2 separate regions of the Homo sapiens genome follow, and region 2 is linked to region 1. The links come from fine-mapping of genetic effects on gene expression. A gene starts in region 1. The other region holds a variant in brackets. All regions are shown on one strand. Distances are from middle to middle. Region 1 holds the start of DCAF5 (DDB1 and CUL4 associated factor 5). Region 2 overlaps DCAF5 (DDB1 and CUL4 associated factor 5).

Evidence for each region. PIP is the estimated chance that this variant, and not a neighbour inherited with it, causes the effect. A credible set is the group of variants that fine-mapping cannot tell apart.
Region 2: its variant is the best candidate, but not a certain one, in a credible set for the expression of DCAF5 in whole blood (TOPMed, PIP 0.85).

The regions. Positions count from the first base shown.
Region 1 is chr14:69,150,866-69,156,285 of GRCh38, forward strand. It overlaps DCAF5 (DDB1 and CUL4 associated factor 5), which reads right to left and starts at 2,254. Exons shown (of 9, transcript NM_003861.3): 1 at 1,900-2,254. The coding sequence starts at 2,113. RefSeq lists silencers at 569-1,028, 1,189-1,238, 2,059-2,698.
Region 2 is chr14:69,119,486-69,124,485 of GRCh38, forward strand. It overlaps DCAF5 (DDB1 and CUL4 associated factor 5), which reads right to left. Exons shown (of 9, transcript NM_003861.3): 2 at 2,732-2,875. Among named protein-coding and RNA genes, the nearest start is that of DCAF5, 31 kb to the right of the region's middle. The variant G/A (reference allele first, on the strand shown) is at 2,344.

The DNA.
Region 1 (5,420 bases):
GCCTGGGCAACAGAGTGATACCCTGTCTCAAATAAATACGTAAATAAAGGTGTGTCAAGCTGGGCAACGTGTGACTACTTACAATTCCGTTAACATGATTAGTTCAGTTGTCTCTAAAAGAGTACCCCCAAACTCCCTCACTCGGTAGGTAAAGTTTACTTGTGTCTGGGAACTTCTCTGTTGTAATACATCGGGAGTTTTATGAATACATAAAAAACAACAGCAGGGAAACTGGGAGCTAGGTCTATAAAGAAGAGGTCTTCCCCCATTTTTGCTCTTCAAATTTATTTGATAAAATTTTATACGGTGCTGTGGGGGAAGGAGGCTTTTGTCTGAAAGATCAGGTTTCTTCAGAGGATGATCTAGGGCCAAAATCTACCTAGTCAAAGAGAAAACGATCTGGGGTACAAAAGTCAAGTCAGTTCTGGACAGACCCCAGAAGGTTTATCATAAAATGATCACAGAAGACCTTTCTCTTTGCTACCCCCAAATTGGACTGTACGCCCCATGTCACTTCCGAAGGTTACTCGCGAAGACGGATGCTTTGCCAAGATCCCAGAAGTTTCTGGCGAGCTGCTCACGGACACAAATTAGAAAGACATTCAGGGACCGACCTGGGTGAAGCTAAGCGCCACGTCCAGCGCTGGGTTCCCCCTTCATCCCTCCCAATATAGGAAAAGGGACAGAAGAGGGCAGCAGCCAAGCAGGAACGCCCAATCAGCCGTCTTCACCCCCCCTCCCCTGAGCCAGGTTTCGGGGAGCCGCCCCCTAGCCCTCACGTAGGCCCATTCCCACCCGCCCCTGCCCTGGGCCCGCGACCCCAGGGAGGAGGGGACGACGGCGGCGAGCGCCCCCACCGGCAGCAGGCGCACCTCCCCAGGGGCAGCTGTCGCCGCGGCCCGCGGGGCCCGGGCCTCCCCGGGAGCAATAGGCTATCGATTCAGCTGCCTGTCGCTAGGAGCCCCGGGAGAGCGAGGCCTACACCGCCCGGCCGGAGCCCCGGCCTCGATTTCGCCACTTTCCCCAAACCAGAGGGAGAGCCCGGGGGCAACCAGGCCCGTCTGGGCGAGAGGGAGGAGAAGCAGAGACCACTTGCAACAGCGGCCGCGGGAAACGGGGTGCGGGGCGCCGGGCTCCCGCCAACAAGTCTCCCGGGGGTCCCCCACCCTACCGCCTGCCTCGCAAGTTGCGCATTCAAGTTCAGGCTGGTGCCCTTTAGCCTCCACAGCCCTCGCCACTCTCGAAACTGTATTAAAAACAAGACGCAGAAGAGGCCACAACCGAACGAAAGGCGATGGTGCTGGGCCTCTAAGAGCGCCGAGGGGGGCGGCCCACAGCGACCCTACCGCCCCAGTCACTTCCCCTCTGCAGACCCCGCCAGCCCCCGGGTCGCAGCCCCCGGCCCCTCGGCGTCCGGGTCTGTCACCGCCCGCTTCCCAGCCCCAAGACCCCTTTTCCTTAACGCCGGCGACGGGGGCTTCAGCTCCCCCTTGCCTCCGGCGCTCCTCGGCCTCCTCACCCTCCACATCCCCAAAATGCCCCCAGCACCTTTTAAAGTACGCGGAGGAAGAGTTTGCCGTCAAACTTTGTAGAGCGGTAACCTCGCCCCCCTCCCCGACCTACACTTTCAGGGCAGGCATCAGGAGAGATCACTTTGCACTTGGGATAAAGCGAATTAAGGAGCTGTCAACCATTTTAGGTCTTTTTTATAGAAGACATCCTCTCCTTCCCCTCCCCCTGCAATGGTTTTAATTTGACACCAAACCTTCCCACCGCAGAAGGGGGTAGAGAAAGGGAGGGGGTGGGGACAGAGGGCAGGAGGAGGGTGACGGGGGAGAGCGAGAGGGGGAGGCTGGGAGGGTGCGGGGAGGCGCGGGGAGGGGAAGGGGGTTGATTTACCTGAGACCAGCCACTGGCCTCCATTGTTGGAGAATTCAATGGCATTGACACAGCCGAAGTGGCCGAGGAGGTCCTTCTTGTAGAGGTTTCTGCAGCCCCGCAGGCGTCTCCTCTGAAAGTCCTGAGTGAGCAGGGGGTCCCCATGCAAGCCCCGCTGGGACAAGAAGCCCACCACTGACCTCATGCTGCCCCCCAGGCCAGCTCTCCTCTTCATGCTGGAACCGCCGCCGCCGCCGCTCGCGCCGCCGCCCCTCCCTCGGCCTCACGCGCGGCCGCTGCTCCCCCCACCCGGCCCTCCCCCCGCGCTGCGATCCGGATGGTTCTTTAACCAGCCATGGCAGGCAGAGCGAGGTGTGCAGACACTCGGCGGCGTTCGCGGCTTCCTGACGGTCCCCTCCCTCTCCTTCCCCCCGAGGCTCCTCCCTCTGCCTCTCCGCCTCCTCCAGCAGCTGATCCTCAGCTGCCGCCGCGCTTCCGCGATGCGCGGCCCTTCCGCCGGCTGCGGGGCCCCGAGAACGCGGCGTCGGCGCCCCTCCCCTCCGCGGGGGGCTGGCCGGAAGAACGCGGGCGGCCGGCCCGGAGACCACGGGCGCCGGCTGCTTTCCCAGTTGAGCCGCTTCCCGCCTGGGGACCTGGGTGGCGCCGGGCGGAGACCCCTCTGCACCCCAGCGCCCCGCACTCCGCGGAGTTGAATGCGCGTAACAATCCGAGTGGCCGCCGGGCTTTGGCTCGCCTTCCTCCCGCGGGGACCCGCGGGCCGGCTGCTGCCCGGAGGCCAGCGCCCGTACGAGTTCGGGGAAAATGCGGCTGGAGTGGGGGAAGGTGCGGGCGGGGGCTCCGGCCCTCCTTCCTCTGCTGGCCTCTGCCTTGGGCAGTCCGGCCCTGCCCGAGGCGGGGGAACCGGGAGGTAGGGCCGCACACTTGGAGGAACGTTGCCTGGGGGTTTTGTTCGCGCACCCGCCCCTTCCCCTCTCCCGGTAAATGTTTAACACCACCGCTCATCCCCAAGTCCAGTTCTCTAACTCTTCCTTCCTCCGGTCCTTTAGTTGAAAAAGGCTAAATTGTTCCGTCTGGCAGATTAGAGTGGTACATGGGGGGAAAGAGAAAGGGATAAAGAAGTAGGAAGAAAATTGCCAAAACCGAGTTGATGAAGTCCCGAGAAGCACGAGGTACTTCTCTCCGTTCCAGATAAATTTGCACGACACAAGAAGCGTGATTTGAAACTAACGATATATGTTATTTAATTGGGTTCGGTGAGCTCCTCTTAAAGGTCTCGAGTGGGGAGCACTGAGGTTGGACAGCTGTTAACCAGCAGCTGCGCTCCAGGCCAGAAGTGGCTGCACTTCAGTAGGATGGGAGTCACCGCGTTGACCCTAGTGGGTGTTAAATGCTTTGGAATTCTACCAGATACAGTTAAAAGTCCCCTTTTCGATGTATTATAGTACTTTTCCTGGAAGCTATCCTCTGTCATTAAGTGGTAATAAGCTACTGAAATAGGCACTTGTCAGTTTTGCCCTTTCAAGTTAGCAGGAATTACATCCTCTGGACCAGAGATGGCACAGGAGCAGTTGAGTAGAATCATCATTGAAAGATGGGCTGTACATCTCTGATCTGGGGAAAATAATAATAATTTTTTTTAAAAAAAAAGATCGGCTGAACATGGAAGAGGTTTACCCGTCAAACAAAATTATTTACTTCTACTTTTTGTTCAGTGACAATACGATTAATCGTACTAATAACAAATATGCAAATGTTTCATATAAAAGTACATATTCTAGCAAACATTACTAAACAGAAACCAAATTCCATCAGAACTTGGGGAAAAGGGCAAAAAATAAATAAATTTTTAAAAGAAAGAAATCAAATTCCAAAAATGTGAATTTTAATGGAATATTGTTCCCCTAAATAGGAAACTATGTGGTACTTAAAAGGTTTTATCCTCAGGATGCCTTCTAATAATCCTTTGTGTTTATTCATTATAATCACCACCTAAAAATTAGTAGCAGTATACCAGCTTTATTAAAGATGTATAGCACCAAACATCCTTCTGTCATTGCAATGTCAAAATGTGTAATTAATCATTTATTTTTGTGATGATATGAGTCTCCCCACTCTGCTGTAAGTTCTCTGAGAGCAGGGACTACGTCTGTTCTGCTCAAGGGTGTATGCCTGGAGCCAGTACTTGCTGGCACTAGTGGCCGCTTTAATACTTGCTGAATTCATGAATGTACTTAGGGAGTGGGGAGGAGTTTGAAGGGAAAGGTCGTGCTTTCCGGTTTGGATATGTTGAGTTTGACCTGTTTCATTCCAGTGGAATCCACTTGTTCCAAGGCCAGTTTCCCTGCTCACTGTTCCTTTGCTTGGCATACTCAGTCCACACATTCAAAACCCCCTCTAACTTCTTCCAGTTAATAGGCCATCATTTATACCTATTTGCCTGGGGTGGGGGAGATTTGTTCGAAGTGGCCTTTACTGTGGCAGTGTATAATACGCATCCTCCTCTGCCCTCTTAAGCACATACCCCCTTTACAGTTTTTACTGAATTCCTGGGAAAATTGTCCCATTTACCTCAGCATAAAAATAGACCAGCATCTGGTCACATGCCAGCCCAAATCTAGGACTTTGCTGGAAACTTCCTTAACTGTTGGGTGACCAACAGTGACAGAAAGGTAGGACCACCTAGTCTGTTTATATCCTACTGCTAGTCTGGCCAGATTTTTATAAGCCTGAATGAAATATCTTCCTATTCCTATAATTAAGAGTTGTCGGATAAAATGGAGGATACCCAATTTGGTATGAATTTCAGATAAACAATGAATGTTTAAGTATACCCCATGAAATATTTGAGATATACTAATATTGTTTATTTGAAACTCGAATTGGGCATCCTGAATTTTTTATTTGCTCAATCTGGCCACCTACTTATAACCAACTTCAAAAGATGAAACTCCATAATATCAATTTGCTTTTACTAGGAATTTAACATAGTCCCTTGTGTCATTTATTGCAAACTAATAATATGGTACATAACTACCTACCACAAACTTTTTTTACCACACCTGTAACAAAATTGCAATACCACAAACATTTAATCAGCTTTGATGACCACATGAGCTTTGTGTTTTTCATATAGGCATTTATAGTGAAAAGGCCAGTGTACTTAGCTTTAAAATAGCAAATGAAATTACTTCTGAGTAAATTGAACCACTGCAGAGAATGTATGGAGGAAGAGGGAGAAGAGTGAAAAACTCATATTTTTCTTTCCTAAACCCAGAAACTTATGTGTATTAACATTCATACTTAGGAAGCCTTGAAACACTGATTTGGAAATTCATTCTGGAAAAACAAAGATATGGAAATTGCTTAACCCAAGAACTCTTAATTGCTTCACCATAGGTTGAATACTGGTCAAATGTAGAATTCCCAGAAATGTATTTACTCTTTGACTTCTATTTTGTTTGACTCCAATATTGCTGAAGATAGAGTAAGGAATCTTTAAAAACTGATTGAATGCTAAGGAA
Region 2 (5,000 bases), 32 kb before region 1:
GATGTAAAAAAAAAAAACAACTGTGGCTACAACCTGGGCAACATAGTTAGACTCCATCTCTATGAAAATAAAAATAAAAAAATTAGCCAACTGGTGGCACACCCTTGAAGTCCCAGCTACTAAGGAGGCTGAGGTGGAAGAATCGCTTGAGGTCAGGAGTTCAAGGCTGCAGTGAGCTACGATCGCACTCCAGCCTGGGCAACAGAGAGAGACTGTCTCAAAAAAAAAAAAAAAGTAGGGGGGAAACAACACAAAACAAAACTGTGGCCATCAAGAAAAACACTAAATGATCATTGACAAATCAATTCACTAGCTTTATTTTTTTTCTTTTTCAGCAGAACACTCACTAATCATGAGACCTGCAATAAAATCTTTAGCATTTCTATGACCTAACTTTTTAACCTACAGAATAGGGATAATAACATCATAGAGTAACTGTAAGCATAAGAGTACATCTGTAAAAGCATTCAGAATAGGGCTGATCACTTAATAAGCCCCCAATAAATGTTTGTTAATATTTCTATCCTCATGGTCTTTTAAAAATGTTTCTTTCTTTCTTTCTTTTGAGACAGGATCTTGCTCTGTTTGTCTTTTAAAAATTTTTCTTCTTTCTTTCGAGACAGGATCCTGCTCTGTTGTCCAGGCTGGAGTGCAGTGGTGCAATCATGGTTCACTACAGTCTTGACCTCCTGTGCTCAAGCAATCTTCCCACCTCTGCCTCTCTAGTAGCTGGAACTACAGGCATGTGTCACTATGCCTGGCTAATTAAAAAAAAAATTTTTTTTGTAGAGATCTAACATGTTGGGGTCTAACTATGTTGCCCAGGCTGGTCTCAAACTCCTGGGCTCAAGCAATCCTCCTGCCTTGGCCTCTCAAAGTGTTGGGATTATTACAAGTGTGAGCCACCATGCCCAGCCTCATCATCTTTTATAGCATGAAAATTTGATGACTGTGATTCCAAATGATGTGAAAGTTTTAATCTTGTATTTCTCCTTATTCTATCAAAGGATATAAATTATATTCATGATATGTGTAGTCCTGCCTTCAAATGGTTTGTATAGCAAAAAAATTAAAACCTGAATATAAGAAGACAAAACATGAAAAAAGTCCCACTCTATGCTAAAATGCACAACCAACAGTCACTTAAATAGAAAGCAAAAGTAGCAGTAAAGATATGGCCCAGGGCATCTTAAACAAAGGCCTGGCTGTAAATTCTACTGTAGGTACAAACCAATGAAATCAGTAAACCCATACTAATGCCTTCTAGGTATCAGGTACAGTGCTAGGTCTTGGGTATATAAAAAGAATAAGATTCTACTCTGTCCTTGAGAACTCCAATTGGACTTGAGAACAGTCCAACTGGACAAACAACTAACAGCAACAAGAGGGTTTGCCTTGCAGCAATATGATCTAGCTATGGGGTCAATTATTTCCTTCATAAGCAGGGTGAAAGTACATGGAGAAGGAGACCTTTGAAGAGAAACTCAAATAACTCAAAACTCTTACCAATGAAAGGCTTAGGGGAATTGGTGGGGACTGGACAATTAAGGTGGAAGAACACCATGAACAAAAGGCACAAGGGCAAAATAGTACCATGCAGTGCATTCTTAAAATGACAAATAGTTTGGTGGGCTACAGTGTATAACTCAGGGAAGGGAGGTCAGGCCAGACAGATAGATTGGGATTTAGACTTCATTCTTCAGGCACTGTAGGCTCAATGGTTCACATGGTCCAGTCTTTATTTTTAAAAGTAAACTTGTGTATGCAATGAATTCAAAGGAGAATTAGAGAGTGGTAACAGAAATCACAGAAGGCCATTGCAAAAATCCAGGCCAAACTAACGGATGAGTATGAGAGGCTTTCAAGATAGACCTGACAGGACTTGGTGACAGACTAGATGTGTAAATGTAAGAAAGGCAGGTTTGAGGATGACTCCAAGATCATAGGTAGAATGAACCATGTGAAACTGCTACTTTTTAAAGTTGAAAATGGTTAATTGTCAGCAATTTCTTAAAGTTAAACCTAATAGCTTATATAATTGGGTGAATGGTTGTAACTGAGAAAGAAAATCCAGCAGACAAGAAGAAATTTTCACTCAGGGGAGGACTAATGATCTTGGTTTTAGATCTATTGTATTTAAGTTGCTTTTGGAACACAGGTAGATATCCAGTGGGAAAATCTGCAGCTCAGAAAAGAGGTCAGAACTAGAAATGTGGGGTCAGAAGGAGTATGGTTGATGGAAGCCATCACCAAGAGGTTGGTGTGAGCACCAGCCATTCCAATTGTACCCTAACACAACACTTTTCAAACAGGAGCCATCTGTGGGTCAGGACATTCATCTGC[G/A]TTATGGCCAGCATAATCTTTAAAAATGAAATCGAATAGAATAAAAAAAAACCAGAGTGTGCCACAAATAGGAAGGTTAAGTATTGTTTCAAATATGTGTGTGTGTCTGTGTGTGTTTCTGTGTACCAGACTGCAATGTGAAAAGTTTTCTGCCAAAGAGAAATAAAGAAAAAGACAGGTGAAGAAAAGCAAAAAAAAGAGAAGAGAGAAAAGACACACACTATCCTAATATATAATACTGCTGTAATGCAGAAAAGACAAGCTATGAGAAACCAGTAATTCCACAGCTCAATGAAATACAGGAAGAAAAATAAGGAGTTATTTTCGCACTCTTTTCTCTAAAATCCCAACCACAGTGACGTTCCCAAGGTAGAATCTCCCTTTTTACCTCCAGAGAACACTTTAGTGTTCCCACTGTTGAAAGCCAGGCAAAAAATGTTGGAATGGTGCTCTCCTTTCAGCTGTATGGGCTTGACCCTGGAGTGGATGGCTTGTTCCATGTGCCATAGCAGAACCCGGCGGTCATCTCCTCCTTAAGAAGGAAATAAGAATCTGTGCTTAAAACAGCTGACATCGCAAGGCTGACAGATGGTTTTGCCAGCCTTGAATCCCATCCTTTCCAAAACTGCACCTCCCCAACTCCATAAGATTCGCATGGAGCACAAAAACCCAGGACTCTCCCTGCTTCACCATCAATAGGCACGTGTTCTCTAGGCCATTCATCTCTCCCAGGAATTGAATCTTAAGCAGACATAGAAAATGAAAGGGATAAGCACTGATATTGAGACTCCTAAAGCCACCCTGTTCCTGTCTTTCCAGAGTTGTTTAAATATTTCTTCATTTGCTACCTAGAACCCCTTCATGGAAGTCCTTTTTTGTTTGTTTGTTTAATAGAACCTGAGATGACTTCCAGGGCTTGCAATCAAAGAACTTTAAAGTAATATTTCTAGCATAATGGTTTTCAAAGCAATCTTCTTGATATGATCTCATTGATTGTGGAACACCATACAAATGATAACTAAGAAATCACCTGACTCTTACAGTAATAGGATCTAGACAGAATATGGCTCAGCCCAGCTCTTAACTCTGCGTAACTTTGGGTCTAAGTTGGTTGTTATTGTTTTTTCCCATTTTTACTTTTTACTTTTACTTTTTTTGCATTGACTTTTTATAAGAAGGCTATACTATTTTCCTAATAAAAATTTAATTTACAACAGCAGCAAACCATAGCAAGCTCTACACCTCCACCTCCCTTACTCCATTCAATGAAAAATGCAGCCACAAATGATAGCACATCCATACAAGGGCATACTATGAAGCCATTAAGTTGTTAGATCTATACAAAAGCTAATGCAGAAAGATGTCCAAAGATACCCGTTAAGGGGGAAAATGAGGTATAAAACAGTATGTAATCCATTTGCATAAAACAAAATTTTTAAAAGCTCCATGACAGCAGAAACCTTGTCAGTTTTGTTCACTGGGAAATACCTGGCACCTACATGAGTGCTCCAAGGAATGAGCATTGACAGTATGCTTATACTCGCATATCTATGCATTGACAGTATGCTTATACTCGCATATCTATGCTTGTATTTGCATAGCCCTATCTAGATGGCTATAAAAGAAGCTGTTTATAGTGCCAACTATAACTGGTAGGCTGGTGTTGGGAGACTTTTTATGGTGGTAAAATATATATATATACATGTAACTTACCATTTTACCCATTTTCAAGTGTACAATTCAGTGGCATTAAGTACATTTGTGCTGTTGTACAGCCACTGCCATTATTCACCTTCAGAAATTTTTCATCATCCCAAACTGAAATACTGTACCCAATAAACAATAACTCCTCCCAGTGCCTAGTCACTGTTCTTTTTTTTTGAGACGGAGTCTCGCACTGTTGCCCAGGCTGGAGTATGCAGTGCAGTGGCGCAATCTCGGCTCACTGCAACCTCCACCTCCCAGGTTCAAGCGATTCTCCTGCCTCAGTCTCCTGAGTAGCTGGGATTACAGGCTCCCACCACCACGCCCAGCTAATTTTTCGTATTTTTAGTAGAGAAGGGGTTTCACTATGTTGGCCAGGCTGGTCTCAAACTCCTGACCTCATGATCCACCCACCTCGGCCTCCCAAAGTGCTGGGATTACAGGCGTGAATCACTGTGCCCGGCCAAGTAGTCACTATTCTACTTTCTGCCTCTATGGATTTGTCTACTCTAGGAACCTCGTATAAGTCAAATCACACAGTATTTCTCCTTCTAGGTCTGGCTCACTCCCTTAGCATAATGTCTTCAAGGTGCATCCAGGTCGTGGCATGTATCAGAATTTCCTTGCTTTCTAAGGCTGAATAGTATTCCATCGTATATATATTTGTATGCATATTTTGTTTATCCACTAATCCATCAATGACCATTTGGGTTATTTCCACCTTTTGGCTATTGTGAATAATGTTGCTATGAACACAAGTGTACAAATAACTTTTTGAGTCCCTCCTTTCAATTTGGGTATATACTGTTGGAAAACTTTTACTTTCTACCTTCCTATACTGCTTGACTTTTTGCCACAGCAGATTTCTTCTTATAATAAAAAATAGAAGATACAGAAGCCAAATCATACTTATTCTCCTGCTCCTAGAAAGAAATTGTCTTTGCTACTTGAAT